Regions from separate parts of the Homo sapiens genome. Here regions 1 and 2 are each linked to region 3. Evidence: fine-mapped expression QTL. A gene starts in region 3. Each other region holds a variant in brackets. All regions are shown on one strand. Distances are between the middles of the regions. Region 1 overlaps RPGRIP1 (RPGR interacting protein 1). Region 2 overlaps RPGRIP1 (RPGR interacting protein 1). Region 3 holds the start of RPGRIP1 (RPGR interacting protein 1).

Evidence for each region. PIP is the estimated chance that this variant, and not a neighbour inherited with it, causes the effect. A credible set is the group of variants that fine-mapping cannot tell apart.
Region 1: its variant is the best candidate, but not a certain one, in a credible set for the expression of RPGRIP1 in whole blood (INTERVAL, PIP 0.56).
Region 2: its variant is the best candidate, but not a certain one, in a credible set for the expression of RPGRIP1 in whole blood (INTERVAL, PIP 0.58).

What each region holds. Positions count from the first base shown.
Region 1 is chr14:21,315,893-21,320,892 of GRCh38, reverse strand. It overlaps RPGRIP1 (RPGR interacting protein 1), which reads right to left. Exons shown (of 25, transcript NM_020366.4): 11 at 3,043-3,197; 12 at 716-876. Among named protein-coding and RNA genes, the nearest start is that of RPGRIP1, 38 kb to the right of the region's middle. The variant G/C (reference allele first, on the strand shown) is at 2,428.
Region 2 is chr14:21,308,646-21,313,645 of GRCh38, reverse strand. It overlaps RPGRIP1 (RPGR interacting protein 1), which reads right to left. Exons shown (of 25, transcript NM_020366.4): 8 at 3,039-3,062; 9 at 1,676-1,822; 10 at 1,140-1,213. Among named protein-coding and RNA genes, the nearest start is that of RPGRIP1, 31 kb to the right of the region's middle. RefSeq lists enhancers at 4,253-4,412, 4,235-4,762. The variant A/G (reference allele first, on the strand shown) is at 3,013.
Region 3 is chr14:21,273,728-21,284,903 of GRCh38, reverse strand. It overlaps RPGRIP1 (RPGR interacting protein 1), which reads right to left and starts at 4,821. Exons shown (of 25, transcript NM_020366.4): 1 at 4,745-4,821.

The sequences.
Region 1 (5,000 bases), 39 kb before region 3:
ACAGTGGCACGTGCCTGTAATCCCAGCACTTTGGGAGGCTGAGTTGGGCGGATCACCAGAGGTCAGGAGTTCGAGACCAGCCTGGCCAAAATGGCGAAACCCTGTCTCTACTAAAAATACAAAAAATTAGCCGGCTGTGGTGGCAAGCACCTGTAATCCCAGCTACTCGGGAGGCTGAGGAAGGAGAATTGCTTAAACCTGGGAGGCAAAGACTGTAGTGAGCCGAGATCGCGCCATTGCACTCCAGCCTGGGAAACAAGAGCAAAACTCCATCTCAAAAAAAAAAAAAAAAAAAAAGAGTGGGCCGGGCGCGGTGGCTTACGCCTGTAATCCCAGCACTTTGGGAGGCCGAGGTGGGCGGATCACGAGGTCAGGAGATCGAGACCATCCTGGCTAACACGGTGAAACCCCGTCTCTACTAAAAATACAAAAAAATTAACCGGGCGAGGTGGCGGGTGCCTGTAGTCCCAGCTACTCGGAAGGCTGAGGCAGGAGAACGGCGTGAACCCCAGGGGGCGGAGCCTGCAGTGAGCCGAGATCGCGCCACTGCACTCCAGCCTGGGCGACAGCGAGACTCTGTCTCAAAAAAAAAAAGAGTGTCCTCAGTCAGGACAAAATATTATTTAGTTAGTTTTCTAATCTCATCATCTTCCCTAGAGATATTTGCCAGAGATCTCTCTGCAGAGTGGACTAGTTTGTTTAAAGAGGCTCTTACCTCGATCTGAGTGTTCTCTTGCAATACAGCTGGGTGAGTGGCTGGTTCAGATTGCCTGTCAGGAGGTTGGGAAATTGTGGCTGCATTTTGGAGGAGCTCTACTTCCTGTTTATGCTTCTGAAGTATGTTGGTGACTTCAAGCTTCAGATCCTCATTTTGGGCTGGGGAAAAATAATCCAGAAATGTGAAATTCTGTAGTTATTTATCACCATGGTCAGAGTTGGATCAAGTGTGAATTTAATCTTCCCACTAAGGTTTAATTAATGTTATAAATTTGAGAAGCAATTCTCTATTATTTCTACAGAGGAGGACTCTAGCTTATTGACTCAGTAAACTGAGGTGATACTACTTGCACTCCGAAAACAAAAGACACCTGCAGAATGGTAGAGTGGAAAGTGGAATAACAATAACAACACAAAACAGAAAGGGAATCACTTGACTAGGGTAATCCAAACTTTTTGACAGCAGCATCGAAACCAGTATCTCACCAACTCCACCCCCACTCCATTCTGACTTCTAGGTTACTAGCTCTCTGTGGCACCCATCTTCACACCCACCCTGGCCTGGATGGAGGATGGGCATTTCTGTGTTCCAATGTGTGTGTGTGTGTTTTTCTCTTTAGACAGTCTTACTCCATCACTCAGGATGGAGTGCAGTGGTGCGATCTTGGCTCCCTGCAACCTATGCCTCCAGGGTTCAACGATTCTTGTGCCTCAGCCTCCTGAGTAGCTGGTATTACAGGCGCACGACACTACGACTGGCTAATTTTCGTGTTTTTAGTAAAGATGGGGTTTCACCATGTTGGCCAGGCTGGTCTGAAACTCCTGGCCTCATGTGATCTGCTGGCCTCGGCCTCCCAATGTGCTGGGATTACAGGCATGAGCCACCACACCAGGCTGTGTGTGTGTTTTTCAGGGAATAAAGGTAATCGGTGTTTAGTGAGCAGATCATTTCCATCATGCATTAGAGAAGGGATTAAATTAGATTGCCCTGAAGGTCCTTACAAGACTTCATTTGTGCTTCAAACATACTAATTGGCATGTGCTCCTAAACATGGTTCTTGCCTCTATTTTTCTTGATTTCACACATTTCTTTTCCTTCCGTTCCCTATTTGAATACACTAAAACTTGATGAGATATAAATTTGATAAAACTAAATATTAAGGTCCAGGCTAGGAAAAAGTAGTAAGATGAAGGTCTTTTTGACAGTATTTAAAAATGTTCCAAATACCTATCTCCTGAGATCCAAGAGTTAAGACGGGGGTGAACTGGCAGTGGTAACCAAGAATAGTAATTTGCTACTCAATTTCAAGAATTGGATGGCAAAAAAAAAAAAAAGTATTCCAGTTACCTCTAAAATGATGAGAAGGATAAAAGACAAAGAAATTCACTTTCAATACTTTCAGCCAGGTGTAGTGGCTTTCACCTGTAATCCCAGCACTTTGGGAGGCTGAGGCGGGTGGATCACTTGAGGTTAGTTTCAGACCAGCCTGGCCAACATAGTGAACCCTCGTCTCTACTAAAATATACAAAAAATTAGTTGGGTGTGGTGGTGGGCACCTGCAATCCCAGCAACTCGGGAGGCTGAGGCAGGAGAATCTCTTGAACCTGGGAGGCAGAGGTTGAAGTGAGCCCAGATCGCATCACTGTACTCCAGCCTGGGTGACAGAGTGAGACTCTCTCAGAAACAAAACCAAACCAAACCAAACAAAA[G/C]AAAACTTTCAATAAACTGAACGTTTAAAAAACATAATAAATTAAAAACTGGCAGGTCGGGCACAGTGGCGCACGCCTGTAATCCCAGCACTTTGGGAAGCTGAGGCTGGTGGATCATCTGAGGTCAGGAGTTCACGACCAGCCTAACTAACATGGTAAAACCCCATCTCTACTAAATACAAAAAAAAAAAAATAGCCAGGCGTGGTAGTGCATGCTTGTAATCCGAGCTACTTGGGAGGCTGAGATAGGAGAATCGCTTGTACCTGGGAGGTGAAGGTTGCAGTGAGCTGAAATCGTGCCATTGCACTCGAGCCTGAGCAACAAGAGCGAAACTCCACCTCAAAAACAAACAAACAAACAAACAAACAAAAACTAGCATCTTCTCAAATGGAAAGACATTATATAGGAAAAAGTATACATGAGAGGTAGGTAAGTGTCATGTTTTCCTGATTGTAGATCTGATCTATTGCTAGTGTTCTCATTCTAGTTACCTACAACCCACAAAAGAATAGGATCAAGTGAGGGGATTAAAGAAATGATGGCTCAAGTTATCTTCTCCCAAACCAGAGGTAGAGGATGCCACATTTGAGAGAGCTCTTCAAGGTCCAGCCTACCTTTCTCCCTGGACAGCTCAAGTAAAACTTTTCTCTTGTCCTCCAGCTCAGCATCCAGCTGATCCTGCAGCTGAGAGACTTGCTGCTGTAGCTGTTCCGCTATGAGCTCGTTGCTCCAGTGGGGCTGACTGGAGCTGTCACTGCTGTCCAGCATGCTGGCAATGGAAAGCAAGCTCTCAGATGGATACCCCAAGGGGTGTGATATGACGTCTTTATTATCCAGTTTCAGCATCTCCTGGACCTAGTTCCTCATTCTCTCCCCTACATGTTTTTTTCTGCCCTTGCTTTATTCATAACTGTCATTTACCAACTGCCTTGGAACTTTTGAGTCCTACTGAGTTATTGCTCAGTACCATTTCTGTTTAGGTCTCAGATATCTGACTGAGCAAACACCCCAAGTCATATCCATTTCCCAAGGAACTTCTCCACCATGATGGCTTTCTTTAGTCAGGGAACTATGTATCAAGACCTTCTCAGGCCTGCCGGATTAGAAATGAGGAACAAAATCTTCCTTTTCTCAAACCCCATGCCTCCATCTACCTTCACCAACGGTGAGTTTAGAGAATATTTGTCTTTGACCTAGATTATAAATTACTATGCTGAAGGGCGGGAATTAAACTTTTCAACAACTGTATCCTCCACCCTATTGTATCAAGCTGTCAGAGCAGACCCATTTTGAGTATAAAATACACATGGCTGGTTCCTTTTTTTTTCTTTTTTCTTTTTTTTTTGAGACAGAATCTCGAGCTGTCACCCAGGTTGGAGTGCAGGGGTGCAATCTTGGCTCACTGCAACCTCTGCCTCCCAGGTTCAAGCGATTCTCCTGCCTCAGCCTCCTGAGTAGCTGGGATTAAAGTAACCCACCACCAGGCCCAGCTAATTTTTGTATTTTTAATAGAGACGGGGTTTTACAATGTTGGCTGTGCTGGTCTTGAACTCCTGACCTCAGGTGATCCACCTGCCTCGGCCTCCCAAAGTGTTGGGATTATAGGTGTGAGCCACCATGCCCAGCCACATGGCTAGTTCTTGGTCATTCATACAAATGAAATGACACTAATAATCAAACAATTATTTCTTTTTATGTCTTATTTCTTATTTATCATTTTAGTAAATGTGGTTTAAAAATAATTTACCAGGCTGGGCACAGTGGCTCACGCCTGCAATCGCAACACTTTGGGAGGCCGAGGAGGGCAGATCATGAGGTCAGGACTTCGAGACCAGCCTGGCCAACATAGTGAAACCCTGTCTCTACTGAAAATACAAAAAGTTAGCTGGGTGTGGTGGCAGGTGCCTGTAATCCTAGCTACTTGGGAGGCTGAGGCTGGAGAATTGCTTGAACCCAGCAGGCGGACACTGCAGCGAGCTGAGATCGTGCCACTGCACACCAGCCCAGGTAACAGTGTGAGATTCCGTCTCAAGAAATAAATAAATAACTTACCGGCCAGGCTGGATGGTTCCCACCTGTAATCCCAGCACTTTGGGAGGTCAAGGTGGGCAGATTATCTGAGGTCAGGGGTTCGAGGCCAGCCTGGCCAACATGGTGAAACCCCATCTCCATTAAAAATACAAAAATTGGCTGGGCGCGGTGGCTCACACCTGTAATTCCAGTGCTTTGGGAGGCTGAGGCAGGCAGATCTCGAGGTCAGGAGTTGGTGATCAGCCTGCCCAACATGGTGAAACCCCGTCTCTACTAAAAATACAAAAAATTAACCAGGTGTGGTGGCCGGCACCTATAATCCCAGCTACTCAGGAGGCTGAGGCAGAAGAATAGCTTAAACATCGGGAGGCAGGGGTTGCAGTGAGCCGAGACTGCGCCACTGCACTCTCAGCCTGGGCAACAGAGTGAGACTTTGTCTCAAAAAAAAAAAAAAAAAAACCACAAAAATTAGCCAGGCATGGTGGCACACACCTGTGGTCACGGCTACTTGGGAGGCTGAGGAAGGAGAATCACTTGAACC
Region 2 (5,000 bases), 32 kb before region 3:
TGGCTAATTTTTGTATTTTTAGTAGACACAGGGCTTCATCATGTTGGTCAGGCTGGTCTCTAACTCCTGACCTCGTGATCTGGCCGCCTCGGCATCCCAAAGTGCTGGGATGACAGGCATGAGCCGCCGCGCCTGGCCATCTATCTCATTTTTAACAGCTGCATAGCACTTCATTGTGAGGATGCAACATGCTTTATGTGATCAATCTCTTATCAGTGGTTTCCTTTTTATTTGTTTATTTGTTTTTGTTTTTTTGCTATTACTATCAGGGCAGTAATTCACATTCTTTTTTTTTTTTTTCTTTTTGTGGAGAACAGGGTCTCACTATATTGCCCAGACAGGTCTCGAACTTCTAGGCGCAAGTTATCCTCCCACCTCTGCCTCCCTAAGTGTTAGGATTACAGGTGTGAGCTGCTGCACCCAGCAACATTCTTATTATATACATATATTTGCACATACACAAGAGAATTTTTTCATTTTGATTCCCCCCAGCCCCCCAAAAAATTTGGGGGCCAGACATGGTGGCTCGTGCCTGTAATCCCAGCATTTTAGGAGGCTGATGCAGGCAGATGACTTGAGCCCAGGAGTTTGAGACCAGCCTGGGCAACCTGACAAAACCCTGTCTCTACAAAAAAATAGAAAAAAATTAGCCAGGTGTGGCAGTGCACACCTGTAGTCCCAGCTACTGGGGAGGCTGAGGTGGGAGGATTGCTTGAGCCTGGGAGACTGGGGCTGCAGTAAGCCTAGAATGCCACTGTTTTCCAGCCTGGGTGACAGAGAGAAACTACATCTCAAAAAAAGAAAAAAGGAATTGCTGGTTAAAAAAATAAAAAGGAAGAAGAGTCAGGAGAATCGTTTGAACCCGGGAGGTAGAGGTTGCAGTGAGCCAAGATCGCACCACTGCACTCCAGCCTGGGCAGCAGAGCGAGACTCCATCTCAAAAAAAAAAAAAAGAGGATATGCACATTTAACATTTTAATAGTGTCAAATTCCCTTCCAAAAGACTGCCGATTAATATTCTCACTAACAATATTGAGTACCAATTTCCCCATATATTTATTAATGCTAGGTATTAGGAATGAACTTTCTATAATGTCTTTCATAGTAACACTGCTCTGGGACCCAAATGTGGTACTCACCTTTCTAAGAGTTTGTCATAATTGTCATTCAGCAATTTTCGTTCTTTTTCCAAATCTTCAACTCTCTCCTGAAACTAAGAGTGATAGTAGCCCTTGAGATAAAATGTTAAAATCTATTCCCCTGCACAGGATTTCCCCTGTCCATGGCAGGGAGGGGCGTGGGTGAGAGGCTTTCTATCACCATCTCCAGTGTCTGAGAAGCCATCCAACTAGAAAGACTTGAACCAATTGAAGGTCGGCTAGAAACTTGTATTGGGATTAATGAGGATTTTCCAAAATAAGTCTTCACTGTTTCTGGGTTTCTACTGCTAGGGAAGCAGCAAAACATTATGAAAGAGCAAGGACTTTGAAAAACAGACATAAGTACAAATCCAAGCTTTCCCTCTAATGGTGTAATCTTAAGCAAATGATTTAACTACTCGGAGCTTCGTTTTTGTCATTTGAAAAAATGCAATACTCATATTGTTGCTAAGATACACATTCTAACATCCCTGAAGTTGAAATGTAGATGGTATCTTTCAACTATTATTATTTACCTCCTTCAGAGTCATCTGCAAGATAGACACATCTTCCAGTTGGCTCTTCAAGCTCACAGCCTTCTTGCTTTCTTCCTTCAGCTCTGCCCTGAGCTCATTCACTTGCTTGAGGAGGGCCTCATGGGCTGCACTCAGGATTCCCTGATTCTGGGTCAAAAGGAAAGTACCTCTGGGAATGGTCATATCACTCAGCACGAGTGGTCTCCAGACACCAGCAACCCTAGCATTCTCTAACAGATGTCACAAAGAATGACTTTGATTAATAGCTTATTACCTTTGTACTGTTCGTTAACCTTGTTTTTCACCCTAGCATTTCTCTGGAAGTATAATTTCCCTGGTAGGTAGGGTTTCCATTCTGGGCAATTGTAGTTCATCATTTGAGCTTTAATTTTCTTTTCTTGTATTTATTTATTTATTTATTTATTGAGACAGTCTCGCTCTGTTGCCCAGGCTGGAGTGCAATAGTGCTTGGCTCACTGCAACCTCTGCCTACCGGGTTCAAGCAATTCTCCTGCCTCAGCCTCCTGAGTAGCTGGGATTACAGGCATGAGCCACCACGCCCAGCTAATTTTTGTATTTTTAATAGAGACAGGGTTTCTCCATGTTGGCCAGGCTGGTCTCGAACTCCTGACCTTAGGTCATCCACCCGCCTCCGCCTCCCCAAGTGCTGGGATTACAGGCGTGAGCCACCGCGCCTGGCCCTTGAGCCTTAATTTTCTCAAGGTTCAAATTAATCCCTAGCTTTAAATTAGTTGCCACCTTCCAAAGCTGCCTTCACTTTCTAAGCTATTTGACTGCTTTTTTATGATGACTACGTTTGTACCTAGACAAGTGACATGTTAACTCCAGAAGTTCTGTGTGTGTTTCTGGCGGACTCCTCTGGTGAGGCACAGCTGGGTGGTCTCGTTTGGAACTCTGTCTTAGTGGTGATTCTTAAGCACAGACATTCACCTAGCTTCACATGCAGCCCACTCACAGTGGTGAATAGGGCCAAATATTTAAGACCATCTGAGAATACCTGCAACAACTTTGTTATATCTCATCACCTCACACATGCTAGAAGAATACTCTTAGGAAGTTTTGAGCAAATGCTATAATTTGCTCCAGCAATAGGCTTAAAAATACCATGCCAAATATTTCTCAACTACAATTTCATATTTCAATTTTTATGAAAACAGTGCAATAAGTATCTGTATCTTTTGATAATCATAATAGTATCATTTTTAACAGAAACTATATGACATAATAACATTGATTTAGTTAGCTAAATTCTGGTGTTATGTTACTTGGAGATGAACATAGATTTCTTTGGGTTTGATTATTCTGGTTACTAAGAA[A/G]CAGAGACTCAATTCTCATTAAGTACCTTCTGGAGCAAGGTTTCGTATGCCTGGAAGAAAGAAATTATTATTATTTTATTGATTTATCAATTTCATGATATATTTATCACTGTAATATAATGCTTAACATTTTTAAAGACATTATAAAAATCCCACAAAACAAATCAATTTGTGTACTTGTTTACTAATTGTTGCTATTTTTCCCCTGCCCTAGCTTGCCAAGTAGTCTGTGACTGCAATCATTCACACCATTTCTCAAAAAAGAATGAAGGGTCATTTATTAACATTTGCATTGTACTTGGTGGATTATCCAAGAAAAATGTTTAATCTTAAATTAGGTACTGTTACTTAGCACACTTCAGAAAGATCTCTTCAGTTTTAGTAAAAAAAAAAGAATGATCATAACAACAGCTATAATTAGTTGAGTAGTTGCTATGTGTTACTATGTGTTTCATTACCTGCCACATCATGATCATTATAATCATTTCACACATATTATCTCATTTAATCCTTGTAGCAAATATGAGAGGTAAGTTTTCGTTTTTGTTTTTGAGACAGTCTCACTCTGTTGCCCAGGCTGGAGTGCTGCGGCACAATCTTGGCTCACTGCAACCTCGGCTTCCCAGGTTCAAGCAATTCTCCTTCCTCAACCTCCCAAGTAGCTGAGATTACAGGTGCCCCCCACCACACCTAATTTTTGTATTTTAGTAGAGACGGGGTTTCACCATGTTGGCCAGGCTGGTCTCAAACTCCTGACCTCAAGCGATCCACCCACCTCAGCCTCCCAAACTTTTTTTTTAAATTTATTTTTTATTTTTTAAAAAAGGTCAAATAATCTTGAGAGAGAAAAAAATTGATCATATCAACTTGCTTAAAACCCTTTCACATAGCTCTCTGCTGTTTGTAGGATAAAGTCTAAATTCCTAGCATGTTCTGTCTTTAATGACAACGAGAAAAAAAATTCTTAGTGTGTCCTTCATGACCAGACCTGATGTTTCTCACCTCTGCTCTCATGGAAAGCCCCCTCTTCTCTTACACACTTATTAACACAAGCTAATCTTTTAGTATTTCAGTATTTAACTCACAAATCTATTCCTTTATTAATCCTTTTCTTTTTTCTTTTTTTGAGACAAAGTCTCACGCTGAGGTGCCGTATCGGGATCTCGGCTCACTGCAACCTCTGCCTCCTGGGCTCAAGCACTCAAGCAATCCTCCTGCCTCAGCCTCCATAGTAGCTAGGACTACAGGCACACATCACGATGCCTGTCTAATTTTTCTATTTTTGATAGAGATGGGGTTTCGCCATGTTGTCTGGGCTGGTCTCGAATTCCTGAGCTCAAGTGATCCTCCCTCCTTGACCTCCCAAAGTGCTGGGATTACAGGCTCCAGCCACCGCACCCAGTCATTAATCCTTTTCTGATCTGGCACTGTTAAAGGAGTTATTAAAAATAATTTTAGGCAGATAGAGAGGAAAAGGGGTCCTTGGAAAGTTTTCTCGTCCTTTAAAGCAGCTCCAGAAACGTTTTTTGTCTAGCAGGAAAGCCCTGGCTCTTACAGCCGGGAAGGCAACCTTTGATATGCAAATACAGGTCTTTAGAAACTGGGTCCACCCAAACATGGCGATTCCCGCCCTTGTCTTCCTGTCCTTTCCCCGACCTGTACCTGGCAACATGGCCACCCCCACATATCCCCACGTGTGTAGAACATCATGGCGCCCTTCATTTGCATATTAAAAGACTAGGGTAGGAGGGCCAGTTTTTTCCACAGGCTACATGAGTGACATGCCTGGTCAAACCAATCCCCTGAGCCCTATGCAAATCAGACACTACCTCCTCCTGCCTACTCATATAAGCAGCCACTTTTCCCGGCACATGAGGTCTCCCCTCTCTGCTTTGGAGTCCTTCTCCCTCTGTCTCAGTACAGGGGAGCTTCTTCCGTCTTTCTTCTCCCTTGTTTCTTGCCTATTAAACTCTCCGCTCCTTAAAGCC
Region 3 (11,176 bases):
TTCTGTTCTTGATTCCAGTCTTTTCCAGTTTTGTCTCCAAAATTTATGTCTCAGCTGGGAGCAGTGGTTCACGCCTGTATTCGCAGTACTTTGGGAGGCTGAGGCGGGCAAATCATCTGAGGTCAGGAGTTCAAGACCAGCTTGGCCAACATGGTGAAACCCTGTCTCTACTAAACATACAAAAATTTGCTGGGCGCGGTGACATGTGCCACGACAGAGTGATCCCAGTTACTCAGGAGTCTAAAGCAGGAGAATAGTTTGAACCCGGGAGGCGGAGGATGCAGTGAGCAGAGATCGTGCCACTGTACTCCAGCCTGGGTGACAAGAGAGAGATTCCATCTTCAAAAAAAAAAAAAAAAAAAATTTAGTTCTCCAGCCTTGACTTTCAGATTTGTACAAATTCTTTTTAAACATTTCCCCTTTCAAATGTTTCCCCTAGTAAACATACTAGACAACTGAAACTCACCTTTCCCAAAGAGGAATTGTAATTTCTCTTACCAGTCTGATTGTTTCCCAGTCTTTCCCTATTTCCATAAATGCCACTGTCTGGCTCTGTTCCTACCTTTAGGTTCTATAGTAGAGTCTTGTGCCCTATACAACAAATTCTCCCTTTTTGTTGAAGCTAGCTTGACTTGTCAACTGGAGAAGGGTGTTCAGAAGCTTATTTTGAACAAACAGAGAAATATAAAGAAGAAAGCAAAAAGTATAATGGAGAAATTCTATCACCTAGAGAAAATGTAAACATTGTATTGATCTGCTTTCCGGGCAATTTAACTTGAATTGGATAATTCATACTCTGTTCTGTAACATTTCATTTTTAAAAATCACAATAAATGGAGAGCATCTTTCCAATGTCATAGTCTTAAATAGATCTATACAGATTTCATAGCATGCCTATTTTAAGAAAGCTGAATAATCACCCCAAAGTTTAAGTACTTTCGCATGTTAGACCTAGGATTACAAGTAAATCTCAGGCCAGGCACGGTGGCTCACGTTTATAATCCCAACACTTTGGGAGGCTGAGGCGGATGGATCACCTGCGGCCAGGAGTTCGAGACTAGCCCAGCCACATGACAAAAGTTAGCTGGGCATGGTGACAGGCGCCTGTAATCCGGCTACTCGGGAGGCTGAGGCAGGAGAATCGCTTCAACCCGGCAGGTGGAGATTGCAGTGAGCCAAGATCGTGCCACTGCACTCCACTCCAGCCTGGGCAAAGCAGAGTGAGACTCTGTCTAAAAAAAAAAAAAAAGTAAATCTGCATTTAGTTTACAAGTAAATCTCCATTTGAAGTACCATATATAGGGGCTGGGCACAGTGGCTCATGCCTGTAATCCCAGCACTTTGGGAGGCCGAGGCGGGCAGATCACAAGGTCAGGAGTTTGAGACCAGCCTGGCTAACATGGCGAAACCCCATTTCTACTAAAAATACAAAAATTAGCTGGGTGTAGTGGCTCATGCCTGTAGTCCCAGCTGCTCTGGAGGCTGAAGCAGGAGAATCGCTTGAGCACAGGAGGCGGAGATTGCAGTGAGCCAAGATTACACCATTGCACTCCAGCCTGGGCGACAGTGTGAGACAGCTTCTCAAAAAATAATAATAATAAATAAAATAAATAGAGTAGCATCTACAGGTTTACTTAGTCACCCACCTTCCTAGTTTCCTACTGTAGAAAAGTAATGTGAAGGAAAAGGAAAGGTGACTGCATCATAAGCTTGGTCCTCTGGACCTGAAGCCATTTGCAAAAATGGAGCTGTAGTAGAAGGGATGCTGTTGTTCTTAATATCTGGGCCCAGAGCACATTGACGCACCACCAATGCTATATGGCACTATGGAGCAATTGAAAAGTATCATTAAAACTGAAGTCACAGAAGCTCTAAGAATGAAATGGAGTTTATTGGAATGCTAGAGAAGAAAAGCCAGTTGAGACTGTCAGTGAAGGCGTGTTGAACATCCAGTGGCCAGATTTAATTTCTCAGGAATGAAAAAGTGGAATGTAGGCCGGGCACAGTGGCTCACGCCTGTAATCCCAGCACTTTGGGAGGCCGAGATGGGTGGATCACAAGGTCAGGAGATCAAGACTATCCTGGCTAACGTGGTGAAACTCCATCTCTACTACAAAATACAAAAAATTAGCCGGGTGTGGTGGCACGCGCCTGTAGTCCCAGCTACTGGGGAGGCTGAGGCAGGAGAATGGCGTGAACCTGGGAGGCGGAGCTTGCTGTGAGCCGAGATCACGCCACTGCACTCCAGCCTGGGAGACAGAGCGAGACTCTGTCTCAAAAAAAAAAAAAAAAAAAAAATGGAATGTAGATTCTAAAAGGGTTTATCAATTGTTTTGAACTCAACAGGATGAAAGACTGAAGAAACTTCCACCCGGCGTGGTGGCTCACGCCTGTAATCCCAGCACTATGGGAGGCTGAGGCGGGCTGATCATGAGGTCAGGAGATCGAGACCATCCTGGTCAACATAGTGAAACCCCGTCTCTACTAAAATACAAAAAAATTAGCCAGGCATGGTGGTGCGTGCCTGTAGTCCCAGGTACTCAGGAGGCTGAGGCAGGGGAATTGCTTGAACCTGGGAGGCAGAGATTGCAGTGAGGTGAGATCACGCCACTGCACTCCAGCCGGGTGACAGAGCAAGACTCCGTCTTAAAAAAAAAAAAATTTCCTTGCAGTGATATTCAGAATTGCAGTGCACTTGGACAAGTATAGGTTAGTGAGGGTGAAGAACCCTTTACTAGTGATAGATGGATAGACGTATAAAGCCAGCTTGATGACATCAGCAATTAAAATTTTCTTTTCCTCTTTTTTCGAGACAGAGTATCACATTGTTGCCTGGGCTGGAGTGCAATGTTGCAATCTCAGTTTACTGCAACCTCCGCTTCCCGGGTTCAAGCGATTCTCCTGTCTCAGCCTCCAGAGTAGCTGGGATTACAGGCACCTGCCACCATGCCCAGCTAATTTTTTGTATTTTTTAGTAGAGACAAGATTTCACAATTTTGGCCAGGCTGGTCTCGAACTCCGGACCTTGGGATCCGCCAGCCTCGGTCTCCCAACGTGCTGGGATTACAGGCATGAGCCACCCTGCCCAGACTTCTTTTTTTTCTTTTTTACACTCTGTATCACTGGGCAAGCATTTAAAATTTTGTAGCCAGTTCCCCTTACTCTGATTATTATTATTATTATTATTATTATTATTATTTATTTTTTTTTTTTTTGAGACAAGGTCTCACTCTGTTGCCCAGGCTGGAGTACAGCGGTATGCTCTCGCCTCACTGCAACCTCTGCCTCCAGGGTTCAAGCAATTCTCATGTCTCAGCCCCCCAGGCAGCTGCAATTACAGGCGCAAGCCGCCACGCCCAGCTAATTTTTCTATTCTTAGTAGAGACAGGGTTTTGCCATGTTGGCCAGACTGGTCTTGAACTCCTGATCTCAAGTGATCCACCCGCCTCAGCCTCCCAAAATGCTGAGATTACAGGTGTGAGCCAACACGCCTGGGCCAAGAGTAGATTTTTAAGTGTTCTCATCAAACACAAAAAATTGATGAGCATATGAGGTAATACATATTTTAATTAGCCCAAGATTGGGCAGGTGTGGTGGCTCACGCCCGTAATCCCAGCACTTTGGGAGGCCAAGGCGGGCAGATCACAAGATCAAGAGATCAAGACCATCCTGGCCGTGGCCAACATGGTAAAACCCTGTCTCTACTAAAAATGCAAAAATTAGCTGGGCATGGTGGTGCGCACCTGTAGTCCCAGCTACTCGGGAGGTTGAGGCAGGAGAATTGTTTGAACCCAGGAGGCAGAGGTTGCAGTGAGCCGAGATTGAGCCACTGCACTCCAGCCTCACGAGAGAGAGAGATTCTGTCTCAAAAAAAAAAAAAAGAAAAGCCCAAGGTAGCCATTTTCCACTCTCTCTATATATATATTTCAAAGCAACAAATTTTACACAATAAATATATACAATTTCAAATTGTCAATTAAAAATTAATTAATTTGAAAAGGAGTTTTATTCATTCTGCAGATAGTGGATACATTTCTGAGCAAAAGAGCAATATAATTAGAGCTATGGAAGAGCATTAGGAAGATTCATCTACTATTAGTGATTTGGAAATTGGGGAGAGAACAGTGTTAAGAGGATATTGCTATAGTTCAGGCAAGAAGTCTTGAACTAGGGAAGGAGGGGGGTGGGGGATGGAAGAATAGGATGGATCATGAAGACACTGAGGAAGGAGAATCAAAAGATGTGACAACTGGTTGGACGTGAGATAGAGTTAAGAGGGTGACAGGATTAAAGATGACTTGGTAATGTTGTGCTGGATGCCTGGGAGACTGGTGGTACAATAGAAAATGAATAAACCAGGCCAGGCGCGGTGGCTCATGCCAGTAATCCCAGCACTTTGGGAGGCCGAGGCGGGTGAATCACCTGAGGTCAGGAGTTCAAGACCAGCCTGGCAAACATGGTGAAACCCCGTCTCTACTAAAAACACAAAAATTAGCCGGGCAATGGTGGCGCATGCCTGTAGTCCCCAGCTACTTGGGAGGCTGAGGCAGGAGAATCGCTTGAACCTGGGAGGCAGAGGTTGCAGTGAGCAGAGATAGTGCCGGTGCACTCCAGCCTGGGCGACAGAGTAAGACTCTGTCTCAAAAAAAAAAAAAAAAAAAAGAATAAACTTATTTCATTCTTCTCAAAAACACCCCTAGGGAAGACATAGGAAACTATAAATATGCATCAGATAGAAACTTACAGTTCTTGCTTGCTCCAGATAGCTGTCGCTAATTCTTTTCTCTCAATGTTCTGGTGTCCTTTAGTACTCTAGGTTCCAATAAGCTTGTCCTTCTGGCTTGTTAAAAGAGGAGCTAATCCAGTTCTGTTTAGCTTTTAAGATGTTAACTCTTTGTAGATCAGAGTGTGTGAAGGCTGTGCTTTTTCTCTATGCATGTTTGACTTGGAGAAAGAGCAGCTTAAAGGGTCCTTAACAGATCCACTTCTCAACTAAAACTAAAGCTGAGAACACATTTGCGGGATTTGAGATTAAAAGAAATTTGTTGGTATTCAGAGGATGATCTTTAAATCTTTTATTTATTTATTTATTTATTTTGAGACAGAGTTTCACTCTTGTTGCCCAGGCTGGAGTGCAATGGCGCGATCTCGGCTCACCGCAACCTCTGCCTCCCAGGTTCAAGCAATTCTCCTGCCTCAGCCTCCCGAGTAGCTGGGATTACAGGCATGCACCACCACAGCCAGCTCACTTTGTATTTTTAGTAGAGATGGAGTTTCTCAATGTTGAGGCTGGTCTCGAACTCCTGACCTCAGGTGATCTGCCCGCCTTGGCCTCCCAAAGTGCTGGGATTACAGGCTTGAGCCACCGCGCCCGGCCGATATTCTTTAAATCTTTATCTGAAGGGCAACAACAGTGGGAGTTGTTCTGAAGCCCTGAGATCCCTTTGAAGAGAACAAACACTGCACCGTTGGTGGGATCAACATGCCTATTCAGTCCACATGTGCCAGTGCTTTCGAGTAAGAGAATGTATATCTTCCATTTCACCGTGACCACCGTTTTGAAACCAAACTTTGGGATGTAATTATGAAGCAATAGGATTTGATATAAGAAAATTAAATGTTCTTAAAAATTCTGCAAGGCTGGTCACTGCATTCATATTATATATTAAGTGGAATACGGTCTCAATTGTTACATAAAATCCTCTTTATTTATTTATTTATTTTGAGATGCAGTTTCGCTCTTGTTACCTAGGCAGGAGTGCAATGGTGCGATCTCGGCTCACTGCAACCTCTGCCTCCCGGGTTCAAGCAATTCTCCTGCCTCAGCCTCCTGAGTAGCTGGGATTACAGGCATGCGCCACCACGCCCAGCTAATTTTGTATTTTTACTAGAGACAAGGTTTCTCCATGTTGGTCAGGCTGGTCTCGAACTCCCGACCTCAGGTGATCCACCTACCTTGGCCTCCCAAAGTGCTGGGATTACAGGCCTGAGCCACCACGACTGGCCTAAATCCTCTCTTTAATGCACTGAATGGGTGCATTGAGAAAGCTCCATTCTGGTTATTGGCATGAGGTTCGGGGATTTCCAGGAGGATGAACACATAGTTAATGGGCCCCATGTGACTTCCTCTAAATCCCATGAAATAATAAAATAAAATAAAATAAAATAAAGCTAGGGAGACAATTAGGAAGTAGAGAAAGTATCCAGGACACATACATTTCCCAGTGAAGAGAGGAAAATTCAATATAATATTTTACCAGGTTTAAATGACAGATTTATAAAATTTAAAAGCTGGGCTTTTATGCACTTAAGGTTGCTTCTTGCCCAAGCTATTTCTTGATAAATCTGGGATTTTCTGTCCTTTTTTAAGATGCTCTAGCCAGAGACAGTGCAGGACAAAATTAATTTTGAAGTAAGCCAAGTTTGTGTTTGATAATCGTGTTCTCTTTTCTGAACCTCTGACTTTTGTTAATTTTTTTTTTTTTTTTTTTTTGAGACGGAGTTTTGCTCTTGTTGCCCAGGCTGGTGTGCAATGGCACAATCTTGGCTCACTGCAACCTCTGCCTCCCGGGTTCAAGAGATTCTCCTGCCTCAGTCTCCCTAGTGGCTGGGATTACAGGCACCCGCCACCACACCCAGCTAATTTTTTGTATTTTTAGTAGAGATGAGGTTTCACTATGTTGGCCTGGCTGGTCTTGACCTCCTGACCTCAGGTGATTCACCCGCCTTAGCCTCCCACAGTGCTGGTATTACAGGCGTGAGCCACCATTCCCGGCTGACTTTTGTTAATTTTTAAAACATCTCCTACCTCTTTCAGGCAACCAGTTTCCCTTAACATTCTCATTACATCTTGGAGTGAATTTACGTGATACTTTTTCCACTAGGCTTAATGTACTTCTCAATGTAGACAGTAAGACTTTGTTCTGTGTTAAAGAAATTTCAGGCCGGGCACGGTGGCTCACACCTGCAATCCCAGCACTTTGGGAGGCTGAGGTGGGTGGATCACCTGAGGTCAAGAATTCGAGACCAGCCTGACCAACATGGTGAAATCCCATCTCTACTAAAAATACAAACATTAGCTGGGCGTGGTGGCAGGCACCTGTAATCCCAGCTACTCACCAGGCTGAGGCAGTGAGAATCACTTGAACCCCAGAGGCGGAGGTTGCAGTGAGCCGAGACTGCACCATTGCACTCCAGCCTGGGCAACAAGAGCAAAACTCCATCTCAAAAAAAAACAAAAAGAAATTTCAGTCATTGGCCAGGCTTGGTGGCTCACACCTGTAATCCCAGAACTTTGGGAGGCCGAAGTGGGTGGATCACCTAAGGTCAGGAGTTTGAAACCAGCCTGGCCAACATGGTGAAACCCTGTCTCTACTAAAGATACAAAAACAATTAGCTGCGCGTGGTTGTGAGTGCCTGTAATCCCAGCTACTCTGGAGGCTGAAGCAGGAGAATCACTTGAACCGGGGAGGCGGAGGTTGCAGTGAGCCGAGATTGCGCCACTGCACTCCAGCCTGGGCGACAGAGCAGAACTCTGTCTCAAAAAAAAAAAAAAAAAACAGAAATTTCAGGTCAGGTGCTGTGGCTCATGCCTATAATCCCTGCACTTTGGGAGGCCGAGGTGGGCGAATCATGGAGGTGGAGGTTGCAGTGAACCGAGATCTTGCCACTGCACCCCAGCCTGGGCAACGAAGCGAGACTCCAGCTCAAAAAAAAAAAAAAAAAGTTAAAATACAAAGGTCCCCTGAGGCCTGGCATGGTGGCTCGCATCTGTAATCCTAGCACTTTGGGAGGTTAAGGCAGCCAATGACTTGAGGCCAGGAATTCAAGACCAGCCTGACCAACATGGCAGAATCTGTCTTACTAAAAATACAAAGAAATTAGCCAGACGTGGTGGCGCATACTTGTAATCCCAGCTATCCGGGAGGGTGAGGTGGGAAGATGGATTAGATCCGGGCAGTGGAGGGTGCGGTGAGCCGAGATGGCGCCACTGCAATCCAGCCTGGGCAACAGAGGGAGACCCTGTAAAAAAAAAAAAAAAAAAAAAAAGGCCAGGTGCGGTGGCTCACTCCTGTAATCCCAGCACTTTGGGAGGTTGAGGCGAGTGGACCATGATGTCAGGAGATTGAGACCATCCTGGCCAACATGGTGAAACCCCGTCTCTACTAAAAATACAAAAATTAGCTGGGCTTGGTGGTGCCTGCCTATAATCCCAGCTACTCAGGAGGCTGAGGAAGTAGATTAGCTTGCACCAGGGAGTCGGAGGTTGCAGTGTGTGGAGATGGCACCACTGCACTCCAGCCTGGCGACAGGGCAAGACTCCATCTCAAAAACAAAAGAAAAACCAAACAAGCCAGGTGCAGTGGCTCACTCCTGTAATCCCAACAGTTTGGGAGGCAGAGGCGGGTGGATCACTTGAGGTCAGGAGTTCGAGACCAGCCGGGACAACATGGCGAAAACCCGTCTCTACTGAAAATACAGGCCAGGCGCGGTGGCTCACGCCTGTAATCCCAGCACTTTGGGAGGCCGAGACGGGTGGATCACAAGGTCAGGAGATCCAGACCATCCTGGCTAACACCGTGAAACCCCGTCTCTACTAAAAATACAAAAAATTAGCCGGGCGCGGTGGCAGGCGCCTGTAGTCCCAGCTACTCGGGAGGCTGAGGCAGGAGAATGGCGTGAACCTGGGTGGTGGAGCTTGCAGTGAGCCGAGATCGCGCCACTGCACTCCAGCCTGGGCGACAGAGCGAGACTCCATCTCAAAAAAAAACAAAACAAAAATTAGCTGAGCGTGGTGGCGCACTCCTGTATTTCCAGCATCTGGAGGCTGAGGCAGGAGAATCACTTGAACCTGGGAGAGGGAGGCTGCAGTGAGCCCAGATCGCACCTCTGCACTCCAGCCTGGGCTACAGAGGGAGACTCCCTCTCAAAAAAAAAAAAAAAAAAAAAAAAAAGGAAAAGACCCTGCATAAATTTTATATTTGAAAATGTGGGCCAGATAGTTCACATAGTATTTTTATGCCATCTAGATTTGCTCAAGAGCTCAGTTTGTACCATAATAGTAAAATAAGCACTGACAATGAAATGTGACCTTTGTCAACTAAAAAAGCATTTTGTAAGTTGTACAAAGATTAGCTTAATGAAAAATTACCAGAGGATAAAATCCTGTGCTTCAGAGCCAGAATGAGAACAGATGGCAAATACGTTAAAGAAGGCTTAACCTACAGGAAGCCAGATTTAGGTCACTGCTGAGATGAAAATTAGCAGAGGAACAAAGAAGACAAAGGAAAAGTAGGAGAAAAACATTAAGTAGAAAGTGAAAAGAGAAATTGAAGAAACAAGAAAGAAATTAGAAGTTTATATGTTCCTTTTTTCAGAAATGAGGTCTCACTATGTTGTTCAGGCTGGAGTGCAGTGGCTGCTCACAGACACAATCATAGCATACTGCCAGGAACTCCGGGGGTCAAGGGATTCTCCTGCCTCAGCCTCCTGAGTGGCTGCGACTACAGGCACCCACTACCATGCCCCACTATTTTTCATTAAAAAAAAATATTTTGGCCGGGCGTGGTGGCTCACGCCTATAACCCCAGCACTTTGGGAGGCCGAGGTGGGCATACCACGAGGTCAGGAGTTTGAGACCGCTTGGCCAACATGGTGAAACCCCATCTCTACTAAAAATACAAAAATTAGCTGGGCATGATGGCACAAGCCTATAGTCCCAGCTACTTGGGAGGCTGAGGCAGGAGAATCGCTTGAACCTGGGAGGTGGAAGCTGCAGTGAGCCGAGATCGTGCCACTGCACTCCAGCCTGGCGACTGAGCGATACTCTGTCTCAAAAAAAAAAAAAAAAAAAATTTAAGAGATGTTGCCCAAGCTGGAGGATGTTTTTAAAATAAAGTCACTTATTTTCAAATATCTTCTGAAGGGGCTTGAAGTCTCTATTATATAGGTCTCATAGCACCTTCTTACTTATTTTCAGTAGCACTCACAATTTAGTATAAACAATTAATTGAGTAATTATCCATTTAATATTTGATTCTGTTCTGAAGGGCAGGGCCATGTCTGTTTTGTTTACTTCTATGCTCTTGTGGCATCAGCTAATTACATAGTACGTTTAACAAGTATTGTTGAGTGAATGGGTAGGATTTTCCCACCTTGGCATACATTACATTATTAATAATAGTGTAATGGTTATTTGCATATCCTCTAGAACTAGACCTCCTAGCATTAGAATCTTTTTTTTTTCTCTTTTTGAGACACGGTCTTGCTGCTGGTAGCTAAATCCTGGTCTCCAGGGATCCTCCTGCCTCAGCCTCCTGAGTAGCTGGGATTACAGGCTTCCGAGTGTCTAGCTATAGTGTCAGAATCTTGCACCACCAAAAACTAGTTGTGTGACCTTAGGCAAATTACTTAACCTTTCTGTGCTTTCATTTCTACATCTTTAAAATGGGGATAATAAAATTATCAAATGAGCTAATTCATGTGAAACACTTAGAAAAGTGCTTTACACATGGTATCTGCTCAGTAAATTTTTATTTTTACTATTAATATTTAATATAAGGGTAGTCAATAATACTTAGAAGCAAATATTACTTGATTTCAAAACCACGAATGGATGTCATAATCCAGACTTTATCTTTCCTTCTTTTTTTTTTTTTTTTCCACTCTGTTGCCAGGCTGGAGTGCAGTGGTGCAATCTCGGCTCACTGCAACCTCCGCCTCCCAGGTTCAAGCGATTCTCGTGCCTCAGCCTCCCAAGTAGCTGGGATTACAGGCATGCGCCACCATATCCAGCTAATTTTTGTATTTTTAGTAGGGACGGGGTTTCACCATGTTGGCCAGGATGGTCTCCGTCTCCTGACCTCGTGATCTTCCTGCCTTGGCCTCCCAAAGTGTTGGGATTATGGGTGTGAGCCACCGCGCCCAGCTATCTCTCCCAGTTCTAAAGCTTTGTGGACAAGGATTTTTTTTTTTTTTTAATTTTCGAGACGGAGTCTTGCTCTGTCCCTTAGTCTAGAGTGCAGTGGCATGATCTTGGCTCACTGCAACCTCCACCTCCCAGGTTCAAATGAATCTCCTGCCTCAGCCTTCCGAATAGCTGGGATTACAAGTGCGCGTCACGTCTGGCTAATTTTTGTATTTTAAGAAAAGACAGGGTTTCATCATGTTGGCCAGG